6 separate regions of the Homo sapiens genome follow, and all the other regions are linked to region 1. The links come from fine-mapping of genetic effects on gene expression. A gene starts in region 1. Each other region holds a variant in brackets. All regions are shown on one strand. Distances are from middle to middle.

The links. PIP is the estimated chance that this variant, and not a neighbour inherited with it, causes the effect.
Region 2: its variant is fine-mapped to the expression of MMP17 in monocytes after LPS (Quach 2016, PIP 0.95). The same link has a PIP of 0.9 or more in monocytes after R848.
Region 3: its variant is fine-mapped to the expression of MMP17 in gastroesophageal junction (GTEx, PIP 0.93).
Region 4: its variant is fine-mapped to the expression of MMP17 in whole blood (INTERVAL, PIP above 0.99).
Region 5: its variant is fine-mapped to the expression of MMP17 in whole blood (TOPMed, PIP above 0.99).
Region 6: its variant is fine-mapped to the expression of MMP17 in gastroesophageal junction (GTEx, PIP 0.97).

The regions. Positions count from the first base shown.
Region 1 is chr12:131,826,839-131,830,923 of GRCh38, forward strand. It overlaps MMP17 (matrix metallopeptidase 17), which reads left to right and starts at 1,555. Exons shown (of 10, transcript NM_016155.7): 1 at 1,555-1,815. The coding sequence starts at 1,657. RefSeq lists silencers at 1,420-1,549, 3,539-3,798 and an enhancer at 3,282-3,891.
Region 2 is chr12:131,802,393-131,806,477 of GRCh38, forward strand. No RefSeq gene overlaps it. Among named protein-coding and RNA genes, the nearest start is that of MMP17, 24 kb to the right of the region's middle. The variant T/A (reference allele first, on the strand shown) is at 1,955.
Region 3 is chr12:131,739,887-131,743,971 of GRCh38, forward strand. All of the region lies in intron 7 of SFSWAP (splicing factor SWAP), which reads left to right. Among named protein-coding and RNA genes, the nearest start is that of SFSWAP, 31 kb to the left of the region's middle. The variant C/T (reference allele first, on the strand shown) is at 1,619.
Region 4 is chr12:131,853,039-131,857,123 of GRCh38, forward strand. No RefSeq gene overlaps it. Among named protein-coding and RNA genes, the nearest start is that of MMP17, 27 kb to the left of the region's middle. RefSeq lists an enhancer at 2,896-3,447. The variant GCA/G (reference allele first, on the strand shown) is at 2,302.
Region 5 is chr12:131,618,068-131,622,152 of GRCh38, forward strand. No RefSeq gene overlaps it. Among named protein-coding and RNA genes, the nearest start is that of LINC02414, 28 kb to the right of the region's middle. RefSeq lists enhancers at 1-18, 19-519. The variant C/T (reference allele first, on the strand shown) is at 2,225.
Region 6 is chr12:131,233,809-131,237,893 of GRCh38, forward strand. It overlaps LOC105370082 (a long non-coding RNA gene), which reads right to left. Exons shown (of 4, transcript XR_945559.3): 4 at 1-4,085. Among named protein-coding and RNA genes, the nearest start is that of LINC02415, 62 kb to the right of the region's middle. RefSeq lists an enhancer at 893-1,502. The variant G/T (reference allele first, on the strand shown) is at 2,530.

The DNA.
Region 1 (4,085 bases):
TGGGTCTCTGCTCTGGAAACCAGGTTGTCCTGATGCACTTGGTCAAAATCCCGGATGAGGCCAGGTGCGGTGGCTCACGCCTGTAATCCCAGCACTTTGGGAGGCCAAGGCGGGCTGATCACCTGAAGTCAGGAGTTCAAGACCAGCCTGGCCAACATGGTGAAACCCCGTCTCTACTAAAAATACAAAAATTAGCTGGGCACGGTTGTGCACGCTTGAAATCCCATCTACTCAGGAGGCTGAGACAGGAGAATCATTTGAATTTAGGAAGCAGAAATTACAGTGAGCCAAGATCGTGCCACTGCACTCCAGCCTGGGCAACAGAGCAAAAAAAAAAAAAAGAAAGAAAGAAAAAACAATCCGGGATGTCCTGTGAAAGTCCCCACCTCCTACAGGTGATCCCATCAGTCCGAACCAAGGTCATCTGAAGCAGGTGTGGAATCACCCTGTTCAGACCGGGCCAGGGAGGCTCTGAGGGCAGCAGGGACAGGATGGGCCAGAGTACCCAGGGAAGCGGGGGGGGGGGGGGGGGGGTGGTTGGGGGGAGTCGGCCCTCACAGGAGGGGAGGGGCACCACTTCCCTGAGACCAGTTCTGGTAAAAGGGGCCGAGCCTCAGTTTCCCTGTCCGTAGAATGAGACCTCAGTCCTGACAGTACCAGCTGCGATTTGGGGTGGTGGAGCAGGAGGGCCTGGGAAGGAGGGGAAGCCATGCTGTCCAGCACGAGGAGAAGCTGAATAAAGGCAAGGGTTACCCTTGAACCTCACCCCCTGCCCTCTCCCAAGATCTCCCACTCGGTGGGCAGCCTGTACGCAACTTGCACGAGTTCAATCCACACAAGCGCCTGCTCGGGCTCTGACCCTGGCTCTGCCGCTTGCCCGCTCCAGGACCTCCCATAAGTTACTTCATTTCTTTGGGCCTCAGTTTCTTTGTCTGCGAAATGGAAATCATAGTTTTCATCTCATAAATGTTGTAAGTAAATGAAATTATTTATGTAACTCCTGGGCATGTGCCAGGCACACGCTGCGCTCCAACAAACATTACAAGTTAACATTCTCGCTCCCAGGCCCGCAGGGACCGCAGAGCCTCCGCCGAGGACCCCAGCCCCCCCAACACCCGCCCTCGCCCTCCAGTCCCCCGCGCCCCCCAAGCCCCACCCTCCCTCTCCCGCGGTCCGCGGGCTCCACCAAGCGCCCACCTGCTGCGCTGCGGCGGCGGCTCCGGGGCCTGAACCCGGGTCTGAACCCGGGCCTCGGCGCCGTGGGGGGTGGACCCGGGAGCGCGGCCGGAGAGGGGAGTCAGGGTCAGCTCCCCGCAGGCGCCCCGACCCCCGCCTCCGCGCCCATCCCGCGCGTCCCCGCCGCCCCAAGAGCGTCCTAAGACACCCGGGGAAACGCCTTCCCTGTGATGCCGCGGACCCAGTCCCGTCGCGGACACGGCGGGGCGGGCGGGGGTGGCAGCGTCCGAGGCGGCGCGGGCCCTTTAAGGCGGCCGGCCTCGTTAGCATACATTTGCATGGCCCCGCCCCGCCGCTTGAGGCTGCCGCGCGGGGCTCAGTCCGGCGGGGGCGCCGCGGAGAGCGGAGGGCGCCGGGCTGCGGAACGCGAAGCGGAGGGCGCGGGACCCTGCACGCCGCCCGCGGGCCCATGTGAGCGCCATGCGGCGCCGCGCAGCCCGGGGACCCGGCCCGCCGCCCCCAGGGCCCGGACTCTCGCGGCTGCCGCTGCCGCTGCTGCTGCTGCTGGCGCTGGGGACCCGCGGGGGCTGCGCCGCGCCCGCACCCGCGCCGCGCGCCGAGGACCTCAGCCTGGGAGTGGTGAGCGCGCGGGCGGGACGGGCGCGGAGCTCCTGGGCCGGAGCCGGGGGTCTCCGCGGGCCGGGTGGCGGGGACCGGGAAGACCCCAGCAGTGCACGTCGGCGTCGCGCGGGAGCCCTGGCGCCCTGGACCCATTTCCTGGGTGGGGAGACTGAGGCAGGGACGCGGGCTGAGCGACCGGGCGAGCGCACGCGAGTCCTGGGGAGGCGCCGGCTGCCGTCCCGGCTCCGTGCGCTGGGAGCGCGCCGCAGCCGCAGGAGCCCGTGGAGTTGTGAGGGGGTCGCCCACCCGGAGCCCGGGTCGCCGGCTTGCAGCAGCCCCGGAGCAGCCGGGCTGGGCGAGAGCAGGCATCGCGGCCGCCCCGAGCTCTGCGCGCTGCGTGCGTTCCGGGTGGGAGTGGCGGGGGCAGGAGCACGCACCCACAAAGCGAGGAAGGGCAGGGGCTACGGAGTGGGGGCACCCCGAAAGCCTTGAGCCCCCGAGTTTGCTCGGTTGAGGGTGTTGGGGGCACAGGGATGCTGGCCCCCAGCTCCCCACTGGACAAGGACCTGGCCCTCAGCCTCCTTCCCCTCCACCCCAGGTCGGCCAGGCTGGCCCTGCCTTGCCCTGGTACAGTGCTGAGCCGGGGGCGCGGGGAGAGCCTTCCTCACTCCACACCCAGTAGCTGTCCCCAGCTCAGCTTAGAAACCCTGCCTGGGGGCAGCGACGTGGCCTCTTCCTACAGCCCCCTCCCCTGTTCCGCAGCCGGGACTCGCGTCTCCTGTGGACCCGGAAGATTTAGAGCACACGTCGTGGGGTCAGCGCCCCCCCGCTGGGGCGGCCGGGTGAACTCCCGCTGGGTTCGTTGGTTCCTTCTGAGGCTCCTGCCCCACCGCTGCCTTCAATGGACTCCTACCCAGGGAGTCGGGCCAGGAGCCGAGGCCTCCCCGCCCCACACAAGTACTCGGCCTGGCCCTCGTCCGCGGACAGTCTCCCAGTGGGGTCCTGGCAGGGCCCCTCGCCCAGCGCAGTGGACATTCAGGAGCTCCAAAACCTTGGGGTCCAAGCAAGTCAGCGCAGGTGTATTTCAGGCAGTCGAGGCATATGGAGGGGCCACTTGGGTGGCACCCGCAGCCCCTGTGGTTGGCAGGACTTGGCCAGGGGGTCTGGATGGGAAGCCGATTTGGCCACCGTTTGCCCCAGGCCCCGAAGCCATCTGGGAGGGTGCTGGCCACTGTCCCTGCTGCCCGCGTCCAGGTGCCTGCAGGTCCCCACAGTGGCTTCCTTCCAGCCAGGCAGCCTGTGAACTTGGGGTGCCCCCCTCCACCTCCTCAAGACCCTTTTGTAGGTGCGGATCTCCCGGATCCCCCACTGAGAATCACGCCCTGGGGGCCTGGGGTCTCCAGCTGTGGAGGGAGGTGAACCCAGGCCCGCCTTCCAGGTCCGAGGGTGCCGCAGAAGGGGCCGGGGCAATGCCAGGGAAGGACTCAAGGTGGGGCCCACACACTCAGGAGGATGGACCCCCGGCCGAGCCATGTTGGCTGATCAGACCCAGTGCGGTTTGGAAGTTTCTCGCCACCCACCTGCCCCCCTGCCCGGAGAGAGTGGGTCAGGCGCCCTCCTCTCGGCTGGTACCTGCGCCTCGGTCTCTCCTGGCACCCCGGGGGTCACCCGCCCCGCGCCCTGCGACAGCACCGAGCGGAGGATGTGGCTCCCCAGCCTGGCCGGGGGCAGTGAGTGGGGCCCCGGTGTCCAGCCGGAGAGGGAGGACGCTGCGGGCAGCCCCCTGCCTGGAGCCCCGCTCCGTGTCGGGCCCGGCCTGGCGTGGAGCCTCCGTCCTGCCGCGGCTTCCTGCTCACACTGGCGGTGCGGGGCGTCCTCTGCTGGCCCTCGGGGAACCGCGGGCCGAGCTCAGGCCCAGGGGCGGGCGGCTTCCCCGCGGGGAGGGACGAGGAGGCCGGGATCTGGGCGGGAGCGGGGACTCCTCCTCCGCCCGCTCGCCGGAGGCGCTCCCGGAGTGGACTGATATTCAGGTCTGGGCGCCAGGGACGAGAAGTGCTCCTTTGTCTCAGAGCTGCAGACAGAGCTGCACCCAGCAGGGCTGGAGCCGGGGCTGGAGGGGAGGGCCCGCCCCGGAGCGCCCCCCGTATGCACGTGAACAAGGCCGGGATTCAGGCTGCTGGGCTGCGGAGCCGGGCTTTCAGGAGCCCCCGGCGGGGACAAAAGAGCGCACTGTCCCCCCGGGGGTCCTTGGCGGGGCTGCTTGTCCTTGTGGGCCTGAGTTTTTTGTC
Region 2 (4,085 bases), 24 kb before region 1:
GTGATCACGCCACTGTGCTGCCGCTTGGGTGACAAAGGGAGACCCCATCTTTGTTTTGTTTTGTTTTGTTTTGTTTTTTTTGAGATGGAGTCTCACTCTGTCACCCAGGCTGGAGTGCAGTAGCATGATCTCAGCTCACTACAACGTCTGCCTCCCGGGTTCAAGAGATTCTCCTGCCTCAGCCTCCTGAGTAGCTGAGACTACAGGTGCGCACCACCACGCCTAGCTGACCCCATCTTTAAAAATAAAATACTGGGTCAGGCACAGTGATTTAATCCCAGCACCTTGGACGGCCAAGGCAGGAGGATCACGTGAGGCCAGGAGTTCAAGACCAGCCTGGGCAACAGAGCAAGACTCCGTCTCTACAACAAATACAAAAATTAGCCAGACGTGGTGACACCTGTAGTCCTACCTACTCAGGAGGCTGAGGTGGGAGGATAGCTTCAGCCTGGGAGGTCAAGGCTGCAGTGAGCCATGAATGAGCCACTGCACTCCAGCCTGGACAACAAAGTGAGACCCTGTCTCAAAAAAAAAAAAAAACTGTAAAATTAGACTTTGCATAGTGTATACAAGACACATGACTGTGTGTATGACACTGTAGTAATTCCTCACCACCGGCCAGGCACACAGTGGCTCACGCCTATAATCCCGGCACTTTGGGAGGCCAACGCAGGAGGATCGCTTGAAGCCAGGAGTTCAAGACCAGCCTGGGCAACATGGTAAAACTCTGTCTACTAAATTGCAAAAATTAGCCGGGCATGATGGCGGGCACCTGTAGTCCCAGCTACTCGGGAGGCTGAGGCAGGAGAATTGCTTGAACCCAGGAGGCAGAAGTTGCAGTGAGCCGAGATCACGCCATTGCACTCCAGCCTGTGCGACAGAATGAAACTCCAGTCTCAAAAAAAAAAAAAAAAAAAAGTTTTATCACCGCTAGGGACTGTTATGTTAAACCCCGAATGTCTTACTTTATTGGTGATTGAAGAAATTTCCAAGGGTGACTTTGGCTGGACCCCTCACCCATGTGAGATGCAACCCCACCCTCCCTGGGCCTAACTCTCCTGCCATGGACATCTAGACAGCTTCCTGCCTTTCACTGTCGGCAAGGATGCTGCTGGGAAACTAGAGTTTTTCCCCTTTAAAAAGATTCCTTCTGGGGCCGGGCATGGTGGCTCGCGCCTGTAATCCCAGCACTTTGGAAGGCCAAGGTGGGTGGATCACTTGAGGCCAGGAGTTCGAGGCCAGGAGTTCGAGACCAGCCTGGGCAACATAGTGAAACCCCATCTCTACCAAAAAATACAAAAATTAGCTGGGCATGGTGGTGCACACCTATAATTCCAGCTATTCGGGAAGCTGAGGCGGGAGAATCACTTGAACCAGGAGGAAGAGGTTGCAGTGAGCCGAGACGGCGCCATTGCACTCCAGCCTGAGCAATAGAGTGAGACTCTGTCTCAACAACAACAACAACAAAAATATTCTTTCCTTCTTTAGGACAGATTTATAGTAGTTTTACTGTATCATTTCTAAGGTTCTTAAACTGTGCTAATAAAATTGTTCTCCAAAGATTGTCTCCTTCACCTGTGTTTAGTAAGGCTGGCTTTTGTCAGAAGCCATTTGCTTTGATGTTTCCTGGTGCGTGGCTTGGATCACTGCCCTGTGTGTCCCTGGGTGTGACCCGTGTCTGGATCGTTCAGCTATCTGAGCCCTAATGCAAGCTGAGAGGGCCAGGTCGCTCCACCAGCTTCACGGAACCAGACAGGCACTGGGGGCTGTGAGTGAGAAGGGGGCTAGGCAGGGAAAGGGCTTGGGAACGGGGCGCTGACGAGGCCAGGCAGGTCACTGGGTGGGAGGAGTCGCTAAGAATGCTGAAAACTTCCACCTCAGGGCCAACATTTGGGGTTTTACTTGGCTTGAATAAGTGATTCACTCACGTGGCTACACAGGAATTTCTTGTGAA[T/A]CCTTCCAAGTTCCTTTGTATAAATACAAGCAAATATGCAAATATATTCTCCCCCTCCAGCCCCAATACACATCTTTATACACGGAAAGTGTGTTATCATTTCCATTCTGTGCCAGCTTCATCTTGCTTTTGCAGTTACTGTATGTCTTAGAGTCATTTCCTTATCTGAACATAAAGAACTTCCCTATTTTTTTAATAATAAACTTTTTTTTTTTTTGAGATGGAGTCTCACTCTGTCGCCCAGGCTGGAGTACAGTGGTGCGATCTCGGCTCACTGCAATCTCTGCCTCCTGAGTTCAAGCGATTCTCTTGCCTTAGCCTCCTGAGTAGCTGGGACTACAGGCACGCGCCACCACGCCTGGCTAATTTTTATATTTTTCTAGAGATGGGGTTTCACCGTGTTGGCCAGGCTGGTCTCAAATTCCTGACCTCAAGTGATCTGCCCACCTTCGCCTCCCAAAGAATAATAACCTTTTTTAAGAACAGTTTTAGATTTACAGAAAAATTGTGAAGACGGTACACAGTTCTCATATACCGGCACCCAGTTTCCACTATATCACTGTATTAGCACCATTTTTTTTTTTTTTAAGTCTCATTGTGTCACCCAGGCTGGAGTATGGCGGTGCCATCTTGGCTGACTGCAACCTCTGCCTCCTGGGTTCAAGCGATTCTTCTGCCTCAGCCTCCCAAGTAGCTAGGGCTACAGGCAACCACCACCATGCCCGGCTAATTTTTGTATTTTTAGTAGCGACAGGGTTCACTATGTTAGCCTGGCTGGTCTTGAACTCCTGACCTTGTGATCCATCCGCCTCGACCTCCCAAAGTGCTGGGATTATAGGCGTGAGCCACCGCGCCTGGCAACACCTTACATTAGGATGGTACACTTGTTATAATGAATTAATCAATATTGATACATTATTATTACTGAAAGTCCATACTTCAGATTCCCTTTGTTTCCCTAATGTCCTCGTTTTGTCCCAGGATCCCATCCAGGTTCCCACCTTGTATCGAGTCCTATCTCCCTGGGTGCCTCTGGGCTGGGGAAGTTCTTCATTCTTTTCATAGCTGTGTAATATTCCATTTTATAAATGATGCATCGCTGATTCACCAGTTCTCTTCTGGGGCATATTTGGGTTGTTTCTGATCCTACTCTAACACTACTCTAAAAACCTTGTACCTAAGTCATTTCTCATATCTGCACAAACGTCTTTAGCATAAGCAAACGTTCAGCAAAGGCCAGATGGTAGACATCTTAGTATTTGCAGAGCATCCAGTTTCTGTTATTCAACTCTGCGGTTGCATAAAAGCAGCCAGAGACTACATGTAAATGAGCGGGTGTGGCTGTGTTCCAATACAATTTTATGTGTGAACCCTGAGATCTGAATTTCATAGAATTTTTACATATCACAAAATATTCTTTTTTCACAATTTTTTAAAATAAATTTGTTTCAAAATTAAAAGTGTATAACCTGGCCAGGTGCAGTAGCTCACTCCTATAATCCCAGCACTTTGGGAGGCCAAGGCAGGTGGATCACCTGAGGTCTGTAGTTCGAGACCAGCCTGGCCAACATGGTGAAACCCCATCTCTACTAAAAATATAAAAATGAGCTGGGTGTGGTGGCACGTGCCTGTAATCCCAGCTACTCGGGAGGCTGATGCAGGAGAATCATTTCAACCCAGGAGGCAGCGGTTGCAGTGAGCCGAGATCACACCATTGCACTCCAACCTGGGTGACAGAGCGAGACTCCGTCTCAAAAAAAAAAAGCATTTGTACCCAGAATAGCCAAAACACTCATGAAAAAGAACAAAGTTGGAAGACTCACAATTCACAGTTGGAAAACTTACTGGACAGCGCAGGGACCCGGACCGTGCAGAACTGACCGATGGGACAGAACTGAAAGCCCAGGCAATTCAGGGGAGAAAAAAGTGCTGATTCCGACAAGCGGTGCTGGGAAGGCACGTGGCCACGTGTAAAGAACGAAGCTGCATCCTTCCCTCACACCATGTGCAAAAGTGAACTCAGACTGGCTCAGAGGCCGACATGTAAGAGTGGAAGCTACGGACCACCGTTAGAAGCTAAACCTTTGCAAACGTGGTGGCCGTGGTGTCTTCAACAGGACCACAGAAGCAC
Region 3 (4,085 bases), 87 kb before region 1:
TTCCCTACAGCTTCTCCTTTTGAGTTATTTATTCGATTCATCTTTTCTTGATCATTTGAATTTCATAAACAAGTACGTTTTTACAAGGGCTGTAGTTCATGAATTCTGCCTGTCGAAAAATGCCTGCCTTTGACCTTTATGTGAACAGGACGGCTTGTCTGGGTATAAAACTCTTGGGTAATGCTGTGGGCCTCTCAGATCTCTGGGAACTAGAATCTGACACTGTCCTTTCCACTGCAGGGTGGCCCGGGGTAGCTGGATGGGTCATGACTACCTATTTGGGTTTGTTCATTGGTTGGTTTGCTTTCATTGCTCCTATGCTGCTCTCTGAGTTTTTTCACGCTTGAAAATCTTTCTCAGCTGCCTTTTAACATAAATAGCAATTTGCAGGGAACGATGCACCGAGTCGCTTGCCTAGGATTCAGAAGTGGAATTGAACGTTGCTGTGGAAAGGGCGAGGCCAGCCCTGTCTTCCCTACCTGCCCTGGGAGGTGGATGCTCTTTCTGACCCAACACATCTGAGGAAGTCTTGCTTTACCCTTAACTTTTATTAACTTAATTGCCCATTTTTCATGGACTATATTGTATACCTTTCAGTCAGAGATTCAGTTCTCATTTCTGGGAAGTTCTTTTCTGTTGTGCCTCGAGCACCTTTCCTGTCCCACGCATTGGTGCCTCTGCTTGAAGGACACAGTCTCTTGGTTCGGGTCACCTTTCTTCGAGCCTGTGCTCCCTGTGTTTCTCTTTGGCACTCAGCAGGACTGTGTCCATCTTCCCTGTCAGCGACTTTTTTCAGCCATGTCTATTTATTCCTTGTAGTTTAAATTCCATTGGTTTTGCAGTGGTATTGTTTGGATCCTTGGCTGGTTTTCTAAGCTTTACAGCAGGGCCCCACAGCCTTTCTATATAAAGGTGCATGTCTTCAGCCCTGCAGCTGCCCAGCCTCTATGCAGCCCCTGCTCTGTCCCTGGGGTGTGGAGGCAGCTGCAGATGGTTGTAGACCCATGAGTGTGGCAGGGCTTCACTAAAGCTTAATTGATGGATACGAGGCTTTTCATTTCTTTTTTTTTCTTTTTTTTCTTTTTTTTTTTTTTTTTTTTTTTTGAGATAGAGTCTCACTCTGTTGCCTAAGCTGGAGTGCAGTGGCACGATCTCAGCTTACTGCAACCTCCACCTCCTGGGTTCAAGCAATTCTCTGCCTCAGCCTCTCGAGTAGCTGGGATTACAGGCGTCCGACACCACGCTTGGCTAATTTTTGTATTTTTAGTAGAGACAGGGTTTCACCATCTTGGCCAGGCTGGGAACTCCTGACCTCGTGATCCACCTGCCTCGGCCCCTCAAAGTGCTGGGATTACAGGCGCAAGCCACCGTGCCCAGCCTAGGGTTTTAATTTCATACAATTTTGATGTCATAAAATATTATTTTGTTTGTTTGTATTTTTTCAACCATTTAAAAATGTAAAAACCAGGCCAGCCATGGTGGCTCACACCTGTAGTCCCAGCACTTTGGGAGGCCAAGGTGGGTGGATCTCTTGAGCTCAGGAGGTCAAGACCAGGCTGGGCAACATAGTGAGACTGTCTCTACAAAAAAAATTAAGAAAATTAAGTGACCATAATGG[C/T]GCACACCTGTGGTCCCAGCTGCTGGGGAGAGTGAGGTGTGGGGGTTGGCAGAGGGGAGGGCATCGAGGAGTTCCATGCTGCAGGGAGCAATGGTTGTGCCACTGTACTCCAGCCTGGGCAACACAGCGAGACTCTGTCCAAAAAAAAAAAAAAAACAGTAAACACCATTCTGCTGATGGCTGTACAAGAACAGGGAGAGCGCCTGCTGGACCCTGCCTCACAGCCTCCCCCTCTGTTGCATTTGGTTATGTTACCTTATTTTTGTGCTTTGTTGAATTCCTGTCTTCCCAGATTCATCTGTGGCTCAGAGAGCTCAAAGGTTCCTCGGGTCACATGCTCCTGTAGCCTGAGATGCCATTCACATGCCATGCTACTTCCCTCCGCTGCTTTTCCTGGGGGCGTGTGCAGGGTCTCATGCCGTCTGGTGCTCCTTCTTCCCTGGTGTGCAAGCCTGTGTGTTCTTGGTGTGGGTGGATTCTCCTTGATGCTCTCTCACCTTCTCTTAGCACCTTTTTCTTCCCTTCCAACAGCCTTCTTGGGAAGACCTATCCTCTGCTGTCTTTTGTGAGATTCTAAAAATGTCCTAGATTGGATTTCCTTCCCCCAGTGAGGGAACTACAGGGAGAGACGTTCTTGAGTATCACAGCATATGTGTCAGGCAGGGCCCCAGGTCCACAAGCCCCGTTCTCCTCACTGTCAGGATCCCCACGGCAGGTCATTGGCATTTCCACCTGCTTCTTTCCATGGTGGGGCCCAGGTCTCACTTCAGCCACTTGCTCTCTTTACCCACAACTCTCTGGAACCTATTTTTATGTAAGAAGTCTTCAAAACCTCAGTACAGCATTAAAAATTGAAAGCTTTTTACTTTGAGGGTCACTGATGAAAATGGTAAGTTATGTTTAGAGACAGGCTTTTTTTTTTCTAGAGGAAAGTTTTATTTGCCAGAAAGAGGTGACTTTTAAGCACAGTGGGCTAAAATTCCAAATAGCTGGTTAAATGCCCAAAACGGATTCATTTTGGTAGTTTCCCAGTTTGACAAATGAGTAATCTTGCATCACTACAGAAATCATTCAGGTTTCCCTAATCCAATTTGGTGATGTCAAAACAAGTCTTCTCTTGTTGGGGGACTTTTTTTTTTTTTTAAGATACTAGGTCGTCGGGAGGTTACAACAAAATACAGTGTGGTTGTGATGGACTGCATGTTAAGTGATTTTATTGTAAGTCTTGGCATATAAGAACCCATTAACAGATCATTGGAAACCATTCTGTGTTGTGATATGGATAGCCTCATGGTTTATATTAGTCTGTTTTCACACTGCTGATAAAGACATACCCGAGACTGAGGAGGAGAAGAAGAGGTTTAATGGACTTACAGTTCCACATGGCTGGGGAGGCCTCACAATCATGACAGAAGGCAAGGAGGAGCAAGTCATGTCTTACATGGATGGCAGCTGGCAAAGAGTTTGTGCAGAGAGACTCCTGTTTTTGAGACTATCAGATCTCATAAGACTCATTCACTATTATAAGAATAATGCGGGAAAGACCCGCCCCCATAATTCAGTCACCTCCCACCAGGTTCCTCCCACAACATGTGGGAATAGTGGTAGTTATAATTCAAGATGAGATTTGGGTGGGGACATGGCCAAACCATATCATCCCCTCTCACCCCTCCCAAGTCTCACATCCTCACATTTCAAAACCAGTCATGCTTTCCCAGCAGTCCCCCAAAGTCTTAACTCATTTCAGCATTAACTCAAAGTCCACAGTCCAACATCTCATCTGAGACAAGGCAAGTTCCTTCTGCCTACCAGCCTATAAAATCAAAAGCAAGTTAGTTGTTTTCTAAATATAATGGGGGTACAGGCATTGGGTAAATACAACCGTCCATATGAGAGAAATTGGCCAAAACAGAGGGGCTGCACAGGCCCTGTACAAGTCCAAAATCTAGCAAGGCAGTCAAATCATAAAGCTCCAAAATGACCTTTGACTCCATGTCTCGCATCCAGGTCACGCTGATGCAAGAGGTGTGTTCCCATGGTCTTGGGCAGCTCCGCGCCTGTGGCTCTGCAGGGTACAACCTCCCTCCCGGCTGCTTTCACAGGCTGGTGTTGAGTGTGGCTTTTCCAGGAGCACGGTGCAAGCTGTTGGTGGATCTACCATTCTGGGGTCTGGAGGATGGTGGCCCTCTTCTCACAGCTGCACTAGGCAGTACCCCAGTAGGGACTCTCTGTGGGGGCTCCGACCTCACATTTCCCCTCCACACTGCCCTAGCAAAGGTTCTCGATGAGGGCCCTGCCCCTGCCACAAACTTCTGCCTGGGCATCCAGGCATTTCCATACATCCTGTGAAATCTAGATGGAGGTTCCCAAACCTCAGTTCTTGACTTCTGGGCACTTGCAGGCTCAACACCACATGGAAGCTGCCAAGGCTTAGGGCTTCCACCCTCTGAAGCCACAGCCTAAGCTG
Region 4 (4,085 bases), 26 kb after region 1:
TGGCCCAGCCCCGTGGTCCCCACGTCCTGGGTCGTGCCCCAGTGCAAAGCCGGCTGTGGGCCTTGTCTGCTGAGTCGGGCTCTCACGTTGGCAGGGCTCACTGCGGTTTTGAAGTCCAAACTCTCCGTCATAAGCCTCTTCTGCCGGTCCTATCTCTGGTGAAGAGGTGAACCGTAGGCGGGGCAGGGGGGCTGCTCTGAACTTGCCTCTCCATGCTGCAGCCCACCTCCCTCTGGCAGTGGGGTGGCCGTGCTGGGTCCTGGGGCAGGGCCTGGAGCCCCGCCAGCCCATGACGCATTTCATGAGCCCCCACCTTTTGATATGCACATGCAGCTGAGGCTACCCTGACCCCACATTCAAAGTCGGAAATCCCCAAAACCCAAGACCTTTTGAGCACTGATGGGCTCGGGGTGCACACAGAACATTTGGGATTTCACTTTTTTTTTTTTTTTTTTTTTTTTTGAGACAGAGCCTGTCGCCCAGGCTGGAGTGCAGTGGTGAGATCTCAGCTCACTGCAACCTCCGCCACCCAGATTCAAGTGATTCTCCTGCCTCAGCCTCCCGAGTAGCTGGGATTACAGGCAGGCACCACCACGCCTGGCTAATTTTTGTATTTTTAGTAAAGACAGGGTTTCAGCATGTTGGTCAGGCTGGTCTCGAACTCCTGACCTCAGGTGATCCACCCGCCTCAGCCTCCCTGAGGTGAGGCTAGGATTACAGGCATGAGCCAACACACCTGGCCAAGTGGCAGTATTTGAAAAAAGAAAAGCAGAGAAAAATGCTCAACCTGTAAGTATAATGCAAATATAGTGTCCAAACTCCAAACAATCTGAGCTCCAAAACACTTTTCTGGTCCTGCGCGTCTCGGATGAGGAACACGCGGGCAGGGCGTGTTGTTTTGTGGAAAGGATCTCATGTTCATAGAAAGCTGCACCCGCAGCATGAGAGTCCTCTGCATCCTTTGGGAGGCGCTGACCACCCTGAGCTCGCTTCTGTGTCTCCTGGAACGCAGGTGTCCTCCCAAGGTCAGAGTTGGGAAAGACACGCAGCCAGTGGATCTCAGATCAGAGGATGCTGCAGGGACAGACCTCACCCAGGGCAGCCTTCTTTGGCCCGGCACAGCTCCCGGGCCTTCCCCGACCCCTGTGACCTCGCACCTATGAGGGCTGCCGGCCCGTCCTTCTGTGGTCCATGCCCCCGGCCTGTCCGCCTGCACCTTCCTCGTGATGGGACCTCGGTTCTGTGTCTTCAGCAGGCAGTTTTCCATCTTCGCCTGAGTCACCATCTAAACACCTGGAGACTTCACGTGACGTTCTGGATTTTCAGAGTCACTGCTTATACCTCAGGCTGTGCTGGCCCAACTTGGAGAAGCTGTGCCCCCAGGCCCAGGAGGCAGGGCATCGCCAGCCCACAGCCACAGTCAAAACCCTCCGAAGGAGGTCAGAGGACCCACGCCACCCCAGTGAGGGGCAAGGACCTCTTCCCTTCTTCCTTCCACCCCAGGGAGGTCAGCCTGGAGGCCCAGGGTCTCTCTTGAGCCACACGGCCGGGCCAAGGCACTGGCTGCCCTTAGCGTGACCCAGGCTTTTGACCAAAAACACACAGCCCCATGGGTGCTATACAACGCCTCTGCATGGGAGACCTCCGAGGCCAGGACACACCCTCTCCAGCTCCCATGATACAGGAAGGGAAACTGAGGCACGGTGTCTTAGCTCAGCTTGCCGTGACAGGCTGCTGTAGACCATGCGGCTTCCACATGGGTGACCTCTGAGGCCAGGACACACCCTCTCCAGCTGCCGTGTTACAGGGAGGGAAACTGAGGCACGGTGTCTTAGCTCAGCTTGCCGTGACAGGCTGCTATAGACTGTGCGGCTTCCACACAGGCATTTGCTTTCCCACCAATCTGCAGGAGTCTGAGGTCAGGATGCCGGCAGGGTCAGGTTCTTAGAGGCCCGCTTCCTGGTTCAAAGCCAGCACCTTCTCACTGTGTCCTCACAAGCCCGAGAGAGAAAGTGCTGGTCCCTTCACCCCCTACCAGGGCACCAATCTCATTGTGGGGGCTCCGCCCTCACGACCTCATCTAACCCAAATCGCCTGCCAAAGGCCCCCTCCTAACACCATCACACTAGCGGTCATGGTTTCAAAATGTGACTGGTGGCCGGGCACGGTGGCTTATGCCTGTAATTCCAGCACTTTTGGAGGCCAAAGTAGGAGGATCGCTTGAGCCCAGGAGTTCAAGACCAGCCTGGGCAACACAGCAAGACCCCATCTCTACTAAAAACTTAAAAACCACACACACAC[GCA/G]CACACACACACACACACACAAAGATGTCTGAGGAGACACAGACATTCAGTGCATAACATCCAGGGTGGATGGGCCAAGGCTGCCCGGTGGGTGGGTGGCCCCAGATCCCAGCCGCACCTGTCCCTCCCTGCCACCCTCCTGGCCTCCTTCAGAAACCCTGTGGGGAGTGGATTGTGGGGGCTTAGGAGGCTCTGGCGGGAGGCAGATCACCCCAAAGCAGCATGAGTGACAGCTAAGATGCCGGGCCTGCCCTGCGATCTGCGACTGCAAACTCACTGAATCCTGGCAGCGACACTGAGCGGAGGGACTGGGTTACTTCTGTTTCCCAGATGAGGAAACTGAGGCCCAGAGCTGGCAGAGAGCTGTCCGAGCCCAGGTGTTCAGGGAGGGGCGGAGCCAAGTGTGAAGCCAGCGGGCACACTCTGAGGTCGGGCTGAGAGCAGCACTCCCTTGCCCAGGCGGAGGGACCGCAGGTAGCAGGACACTCTCGTGGGAATCCTAAGGACGCCAGAGCACACCGCTCCGGGGCAGCCGAGCTGGACCCACAGGTGTGACTACAGCGCAAGCCAGGGCCGCCCCTCCCAGCTCCCGGGCCGTTTTTAGGGCGCCGTGGCTGCAGCGGGGCGGCTGGCTCTGGGCTGCTTCACCCCAAGCTGTGATGGGCCAGGGTGGCTCTGCACCCCGCCCCCCTGAGCCCAGGCCAGGCAGGCAGGACCCCCGCTGCGGCTGAGAAATGGGAGGAGCCGAGGAGACAGAGCCACTGCTGGCCACACTCTCCACCTCCACCGGGTCAGGGTCCTTCCACCGTGACTGCAGGACAGGACCCCCACGGCTTCTCCACTTAACAGCAGCAGGATCCTTGCCTTCTCGCTCGCTCTGTCACCCCCAGTCTGTTTCTCTGTCTCTGCCTCTCTCTGTCTCTGTCTGTATCTCTGTCTGTCTCTCCAACTCAGTCTCTATCTTTCTCTCTCCTTGTCTCTCTGTATCTCTGTCCCTCTCCCTGTCTCTTGTCTCTCTGTCTCTCTCCCTGTCTGTCTCTCCTTGTCTCTGCCTGTCTCTGTCTCTATATCTCTGTCTCTCCATCTGTCTCTCTCCCTGTCCCTGTCTCTCTCTGTCTCCCTCCCTGTCTCTGTCTCTCTGTCTCTATCTCTGTCTCTCTCCCTGACTCTCTCTCTCTGTGCCTCTCTGTCTCTGTCTCTCCTTGCCTCTGCCTCTCTGTCTCTATATCTCTGTCTCCCCATCTGTCTCTGTCTCTCTGTCTCTATCTCTGTCCCTCTCCCTGTCTCTGTCTCTCTCCCTGTCTCTGTCTCTCTGTCTCTCTCTCTCTGTCCCTCTCCCTGTCTCTCTGTCTCTGTCTCTCCTTGTCTCTGCCTGTCTCTGACTCTATGTCTCTGTCTCTGCATCTGTCTCTCTCTATCTCCCTGTCCCTGTCTCTCTCTCTGTCTCTCTGTCTCCCTCCCTCTCTCTGGAGGTTGCCTGGCCTCCGCCGCTGGTCTCCCCTGCACTTGCACCATGGTGGGGGGCCTGGCTTGCTCCTGTCGTATGGCAGTTGGCGCTGGCTCTGGCAGGAGCCTCCATGGGGCCTGGGCTCCTCCCAGCACTCGGCTGGTGCCATGCAGGTGCCTGCATTTCTGTCACTCTTTTTTTTTAGACGGAGCCTTGCTCTGTCACCCAGGCTGGAGTGCAGTGGTGTGATCTCGGCTCACTGCAACCTCCGCCTCCCGGGTTCAAGCCATTTTCCTGCCTCGGCCTCCTGAGTACCTAGGATTACAGGCACAGGC
Region 5 (4,085 bases), 210 kb before region 1:
AATAACCGGGCAGTGCACTTGCAGGATGCAGCAGCTCCTGGTGCCACGGCCGCCTCCCACACCAGCCCCTGGGGAGTGGAGAGGCCTCCGGGTGTTGCTTCTGCACGTGCTGTTCATGGACATGTGGCCTGGAAAGCAATTCAGGTTTGCTCTTGGTGAGCCTCGGAAGCTCCAGGCGGCCGCTAGAGTCTCAGACGTCGCCACCCACAGACCTCTTGGGTTTTGCCATCTTGGCATAAACAGCCTCGGTCCCGACCCCTGCCCTTTATTAAGCCCTCTTCAGTTAACCCGTCGTGTCCCTTCTGACTGCTGGGGGACTCCCTCAGATACAAGCTGTCTCCTCCACTGGAAGGTGAATGCCGTGAGCGCGGGGCCCTGGTTCAGCACCAGAGACAGCGCTGGCACCTCAAGAGACTCAGTGACATTTGCTGAATGAGTGAATGGACAAACGATGCTTCAACTGCGCAGATGCCATCCGCTCTTTCAGGAGCCTGGTCTTCCCACTTTAGCGACCATCTGAATCACGTGGGAGGCTGCAGAGACGCAAGAACCTGGGTCTCTCACACTCCATATTCTGATCCCAGGGTCTGGGCTGGGACCTAGGAATTTGCATTTTTACCTAGGCTCTCATACAGGCTTCTAATCTGATAGATAAAGTCTTCAGGAAGTCAGCCTCTGATAGACAAGTGCTATCCTCGGAAAACAGCATACACAAAGCTGAAAATAATTTCCCTTTCTGCCTCCTCCAAGGCTCAAGGCTTCTGAGAAACTGCTCGAAATTTTCTCAAAATGCATGCTCTATTTTCCACTCTCCTCCCCTCTCTGCATTCCATTCAGCCATCCCAAGAGGACCCACATGAGTCGCTGCTCCTTCGTTTCCTTATTCTGGAAACTCCTAAGACATCCTCTCTACACTGATGATTTTGCAGAGCGAAGGAGAAACAATAAACATCTTCCAGAAAGAATTTCTCAGTGACTGCAAACAAGGAGTGAGATTTGCATTCGGGGGGGCTGTTTGCCCTCAATGTGGGGAGTCGGCAGTGTCAGAACTTGGCAGTGACCCTGAAGACGTGGACAGGAGCAGATGGGATGTTTGACTTCACCTCCCTTTTGCTCCCCGATGCATTTCAGTGCAGGCCTGGTGTGCTGCACCAGCTGCGTGACAGAGGAGGAGACGAGGAGGAGGTTCTTGGGCACAGGAGGAGCGGGGCTGGGGTGAAAGCAGCCAGCCAAATGCAGGGGGTGCACTCAGCGGGGGAACCCAAAGTGTGTGGAGAAGAAAACAAAGTGCTCTCCAGGACCAGCCCTGCCCACGGCCTCCTGGCCCTCAGGGGGACTCACAGAACTGGCTCAACAGGTGCACACAGATGTGCACACACATGGGCACACAATGCATATACACATATGCATGCACACACAGAGACCCACGCACGCAGACCCAGACATACATACATGAATGCATATGTGCAGACACGTGCATGCACACAGACACACACACACACACACACGCACACAGTACTGGAATCACCACAACCAACATGCCACCTGCTTAATCCTGTTCGAAAGGACTTTCCTTGGCCTCAAGTTTTTCCACACCTGCCACACTCTGCAAACCTCCAAGAAGCCAGACCCCCCACAATTGGACAATGTCTGGTTCCTCACAGGAAGCTGCCATCACACATCTGGACAGCAGTGGGGCTCACCTTCTGGGAAAGCCTGCTCTCCTGCTGCAGGGGGAGGACTCACCAGACCCCAGAGTGGGAGTGTAGGATCGTGAATGCTGCAGAGCCCACATAGTCTGATATCCCGGCGGAGCAGGATCTGCTTCCTGGCTGGTGCAGCCACTGCCCAGCTCTCCTCTGCCCCTGCTCCACATGTGTGTCATCTGGGCTGTCTTGGAGGCAAGTGACAGAAAGGGGGCTTCACCAACGCCCTCACCTGAGCACCCTAAGAAGGGGCTGGCAGCATCAGGACAGGCCCAGGCTCAACCCTGCCCTCAGACAGAAAGCAGCTCAGCGGTTCCCCAGCTCAGACTCCGCAGCCAAACTCAATGTTCAAGACCCAGCTCTCCCACTTTCAAGCAGTGTGGCTTTGGTGGCATTGCTTAACCTTTCTGGGTCCCGCTCTCCCCGTCTGTGAAACGATCATGGTGAGGTGCCGTGGGGCTCTGATGAGGTTGCCCACGCCAGTACACACACAGCAGGACTTTGTGGATGGCTGGCAC[C/T]GCCCGGGCGTCACCCTCACCCGGCCCTGGCCGTCAGCTCACCATCCTCATCTCAGGCCCCCTCCTGTGCGGCGGCAGAGACAGGGCTGCACGCGGCTTCCATGGGCCCTGGGCCCTTTTGCATTCGTGGGCTCCTTCCTCCATAAAATCACCTTTAAGCTTCTATTTTACAACTGGTACAAAGATGAATAGGTTAATATTTCTTTGACCTAAGAGCTCATATTTTCTTCTAATTTTAAAAGAAATTAAAACATTTTTGTAGCCCTGGAAATCCTCAGGGCTCTTGCACTTTGCCTGTGTCCCTGATGGGGGAAGGCGGCCTGGAAATGGCCCTCAGAGAGCTCCTCTTAACTGAGCAACTGCGAGGCAAAGCCTCCCTTCCCCAGGGGTTTCAGAAAAAGTCCCGGGCACATTCTCATTGGACCAGCTTGGGTCACATGGCCATGCCTGAGCCAATCCCAGGACCACAGTATGAAATATGCTGATTGGGAGGCGTGGCTTCCCACCTGTGAATCACGTGCACCAAGTAGGGGTGACCTGGCAGAGAAATACAGAGACAGGCAGGTGAGTCCTGGACGGACCCTAGGGACATCTGTTGTCCCCCTCAGGACCACATAGCAGAGCATGATACGGTGCCTGTCCACAGCCCAGGGACCCTTTTCAGCGGGTGGCAGAGCTGGCTATCCGGGGAGGGGGCAGAAGTTCCAGTCTGGTGCACCGAGAGCGCCATCCCCTCACTGCAGCCCCGCCCAGAGCCCCAGGGCTGAGGCCAGACTTAACCGCTGGGACCCAGGCCTGCCCTGGGGCCACCTCCCAGGCCAGGCTCTGTTCCTCACTGGGGCACTGTCCCTGGGGGAGGCGGACACAAGGGCCCTTGTTGTTCCTGGAGGAGGAGGCGGCGGGGAGAGCTGTGCAGTCACTGTGGGCTGAGCCAGCACTCTCCATCCTCCCCAGTCACTCCCAGGATGGCCAGATCCCTCCCAGGCCTGGAAACTGCTCCTCAGCCTCTCCCCGGGGCAGGGGAGAGGGGGTCAGGGCTCCCCTGGACAGGGAGGCCCAGCATGGCCATTCCCGCTCACGTGCCCACTGCACGATTAACGCGCATTGCAGCAATTTCCAGGCTGGCGCTCACGAACGGTGCCGCTAAGAGCACTTTCTGGTGAACACACATGCCCCTGTCTGTGGTGCAGACACCCCGGAGTGGAACTGCTGGGTCGGGGTAAGTGGATCTTCAGCTCTGGGCGACGCTGCCGGGCTGCTTCCCAAGTTCCAGATCCACCACACCCCCAGGGGGTTCCAGCCTGCAGCGGGGGCTGAGACCCACAGCTCTGCTGTGTACATGAGAACACACACAGGCACATGCACACCTACGCGCATGTACACACATGCACTCACACGCACACGTTTCCTGAATTCACACACATGATATGTGGGCTGAGGCTGTGTACACACACATGCACATGGGCACACACAGGCACGCACCAAGTGTACACTCACATTTCCTAAGACCACACACGATACGTGGCCCAGGACTGCGTACAGCTGGCATGTCTGCTTGCCTGGGCAAGAGCCACAGCCTCCTCCTGGCTCTCCTGCTGCCGCAGCTCCTGCACTCCACGGAGCCTCGCCTGGCCACACTCCCTGCACGGGGCAGCTCAGGAGCCTCGGCCTCTGGCAGGAGAGGCTGCAGGGTAGGGGCTGGCGGGTGGCTGGGGTCCCTGTAGTCCGGCTTTTTTCCCTCCTCACACACTGCTCTCTGCTCTCCGCTTGCCTGGCCCCGAGGCAAAGGGCCCAGGGGTCGCTGGTGAGGAGGGGCTGCAGCTGGGCTGTCCTGGGGGAGGGAAGGAGATTATAAAAGGCC
Region 6 (4,085 bases), 590 kb before region 1:
ACTTCATGAAAAGACAGCCCAGCCCTGAGGATCAGAGCCATCTCTCAGATGGAGGAGAAGTCAACGCCTGACAGCCTTCGCTCATTTGACAGATGCTTCCCCTGAATTCTCCTCTTGGTAATAAAGTGGTCTCCATGGTAACTGTTGAGGCCTTGATGATGGATTAGACAGGCTATTTTTAATCATCCTGAAAACAATGTTGGCAGGCATGTAAAATCCTTCCAGAATCTTCCAGCTCAGCCGAGCCACCAGCAGGATGCAACTGAGGAAGTGAACCCAGGCAACGCCACAGCAGAAGAGCCACCCAGCTGGGCCCTGCCCAAGATCCTGACCACAGAATTGTGAGAAATGATGGATTACTGATTTTGTTTGAAGTGACAGCATTTTTTGGGTGGTTTGTTAAGCGGTGAGACGTGAGTCAGGACAGGTGGTACAGATTGGGCATGGCTGGGACTTTAGTCAGCCAGGAGAAGTTGTCCGGCATGGCTGTCCACCGGTCTAGGACCCAGGCCACACCGCCCTGCACCTGGTTACCTGCAGCTCATGTTAGTGCTGCCTGGCTGTGTGTGTCCCCTCTTTCTCATTAGGTGCTTTAGTGCCCTCCTGGAATGTCAGGATTTAATTTCCATTCAGCTTTAATAAGTCCTCCTGGACCGTGTGCTCACAACTGAAATTAATTTCTCCAGCCTGGCTTTGGCGATTTTCATCCTTAATTCCTCTGTGTCCCCAGGGCACCTCCAAGCATGTTGTCTTAATTCATCTTCTGTGATTCAACAAAGGGATTGTCCCAGCGTGGGGCACCCGCATGCCATGCACGTCTCACCGCAGCCACACCTGGGCCAGGTAGGATTAGTTCAGAACTGCTTTTGAGGGGCTGTTGTCATGGACACCAAGGGGCAGGTCCATTTCTGGTCACAGACGTGCATCCAGCTTCTGTCTGCAGCCAAATGGAAGCAGCTGCATTTGCTGAAGCCACAGGGGCCTGTGGTCGCCGGTCCTGGGTCATTTTGCCTGCCTGGCATTTGTTCCCTCTCCTTCCAGTAACAAGCCCTGATGGGCTCTGCGCAGCCACACCTTCCCCCTCAGCTGTCACAGCCCCGTTGGAATTGCTTTCTCCTGGGCCAAGCATTTCACAGAGGCTGCACCACTCAGCCCCTCCTAGTCCGCTGGAGAAAGTGGCTGAGGGGGTGGTGGGGGATAATTGCATTTCCAAAGTCCGGGCAATCAGCCAATGTAAACAGGCACCTGCGTCACTGTGTGGGCTCTCTAGGCAACAGGTAAAATACATCAAATACACACAATTTCCTGACATTCCAATGCATTTCTGCGTGAGCTGGGATGGGGGAGGCCGCTGTTCCTCTGGGCTGTTTCTCCTCTCAGCTCTGAGCCGAGCAGCAGGTGGGCTCCTGAATCCCCATCTCCAGGCTCAGGGCTGCTGGCCACCTGCCTGACAGCCCCTTTCTCACCCGAGCCAGGGGCTCTCTGCCCTGCTCTGCAGAAACCTCCCTGGCCTGGCCACCTGCCTGACAGCCCCTTTCTCACCCGAGCCAGGGGCTCTCTGCCCTGCTCTGCAGAAACCTCCCTGGCCTGGCCACCTGCCTGACAGCTCCTTTCTTTTTGTGTTTTCTTTTTTTTTTTTTTTTTTGAGATGGACTTTCACTCTTGTTGCCTAGGCTGGGGTGCAATGGCGTGATCTCGACTCACTGCAACTTTTGCCTCCCAGGTTCAAGCGATTCTTCTCCCTCAGCCTCCAGAGTAGCTGGGATTATAGGCATACACCACCACACCCGGCTAATTTTGTATTTTTAGTAGAGATGGGGGTTTCTCCATGTTGGTCAGGCTGGTCGGGAACTCCCAACCTCAGGTGATCCACCTGTCTTGGCTTCCCAAAGTGCTGGGATTACAGGTGTAAGCCACTGCGCCTGGCCTGACAGCCCCTTTCTCACCGGAGCCAGGCGCTCTCTGCCCTGCTCTGCAGAAACCTCCCTGGCCTGGCCAGCAGCCTCAGAGGCCTCAGAAAATGTCCTGGCTGCAGGTGAAAGAAGACGAGGGTGCAGCTTCCCCAGCGTGCTCTGAGCTCAACCCACCAGACACAACCCCCTCTCACGGTCACACGGGCCCCCGGGCTCCCCTGTGGGAAAGGCCAGTGGAAATGGCAGCATGGACGGAGGCATCCATGGCCCTGTGATGCATGGCTGTGTCAGTGGATGATCTGAGAATTCACCCGGTCCCCAGCACCCCATATCCGCCACCCCATCCTGCTGCTCTTCTCTTTCTCTCTCATGACCTTCTGCCCCTCTGGGCTCCTCACTGAGGACCACCAGGACTGTCCCCGACACCGATGCTAGCTGGGATGTCCGGGCGTCCCTCCCACAAGGTCTGTGCCTGGAGAGGGATGGGCACTGGTGTAAGGCCCACTATGGGGGGAGACCAAGGGCGGGCAGCTCACCCAGGTGCTGAGGAATCCAGGCAGAGCACAGTGTCCTTTGCTGCAGGGTCTGAGGGCTCTCTGCCCATAGAGCTGCTGCG[G/T]CTACGCACTGTTACATCTCCGGAAGATGTGCCTTGTTATGCTCTCAGTACTTATAAAAAAGGAATTCTCTGTCCACAATTTATTCCTGTGCTTTAAAAGTTTGAATTCCAGTGGAAAAGCAGCAAGAAGACATGAGCCTCAAGGATGGTTCTGGAGATGGGTCTGATGATTGTGCTTGGTCCACCAAAGCTTCCCACGAGAACAGCATGTTTGTTTTTGCTGACACCCCCAGCCCCCAAGCTCAGTTCCTCTCTTGGGAGGCTGAGGGGTCACAGGGTCCTGAAGTGTCCCCGGGCTCACACCCAAATGGAAGACCTGTTTTCCTCAGGAAGTAATCCTCGCCAAGCATGTCAGGTGTAGGATACCATATGTCAGAAGTCACAACAGGAGGCCGGGCACGGTGGCTCACGCCTGTAATCCCAGCACTTTGGGAGGTTGAGGTGGATGGATCACCTGAGGTCAGGAGTTCAAGACCAGCCTGGGAAACATGATGAAACCCTGTCTCTACTAAAAATACAAAAATTAGCCGGGCGCAGTGGCACATGCCTGTAAATCCCAGCTACTCAGGAGGCTGAGGCCGGAGAATCGCTTGAGCCCGGGAGGTGGAGGTTGCAGTGAGCCAAGATCAGGCCACTGTACTCCAGCCTGGGTGACAGAGTGAGACTCTGTCTAAAACAAACAAACAAACAAAAAAAGAAGTCACAACGGGTGATGAAAAGCAAAACAATTTCATTTGCATCTCTCCAGTTCTTAGCAGGCTTCCACTGGGCGCTGAGTTCCAGGTCTATATTTATTCACCATCCGTTAAGTCACTGAATTTGAATTACACACTTTTGAGGATTCTGAATGGGAAGAGGCACTCATAAACTGCCTGCGTGTATAATCCTGAGCCTTGTTGCTGTGTCAGCCCCATGAAAGCTTGTTTATTGGTAAATATCAAAATGCAACATTTCCCTCAACTTACCTTTAATCCTCTTTTTATTACGTTTTCTAGACAGGAATTTCTTCTTTCAAGGAAGGCTGTCATAGAAAGACATGTCACCTTGAGGCGTTCCTTACCATTGTCAATAGTGGAGGACACGTTGTCTCTCTTCTCTTCTGTTTCAGCCCCACTGTGGGTCCTGCGAGTCTGCACCTACTGTAGCTCCACCGTGCTGTTTGTGCTCTTCCACCTCAGCCTCCCTGGATGGCTCTTTAAGTCAACTTGCATTTCCCTAGGAGAGGTTATCACTTCCTGGGTAGCTGGGCAGAGCCTGGAGTCAGGCAGCAGGGGTGGAGCCCTGGCTCTCCTTTCACCGGATGTGTGGCCTTGATAAAATCTTTCCATCAGGCCTGGAGGCTCACACCTATAATCCCAGCACTTTGGGAGGCTGAGCCAGGCAGATCACCTGAGGTCAGGAGTTCGAGACCAGCCTGGCCACCATGGTGAAATCTCCTCTGTACTAAAAATACAGAAATTAGCCAGGCATGGTGGCAAGTGCTTATAAGCCCAGCTACTGGGGAGGCTGAGGCAGAAGAATTGCTTGAACCCGGGAAGCAGAGGTTGCAGTGAGCC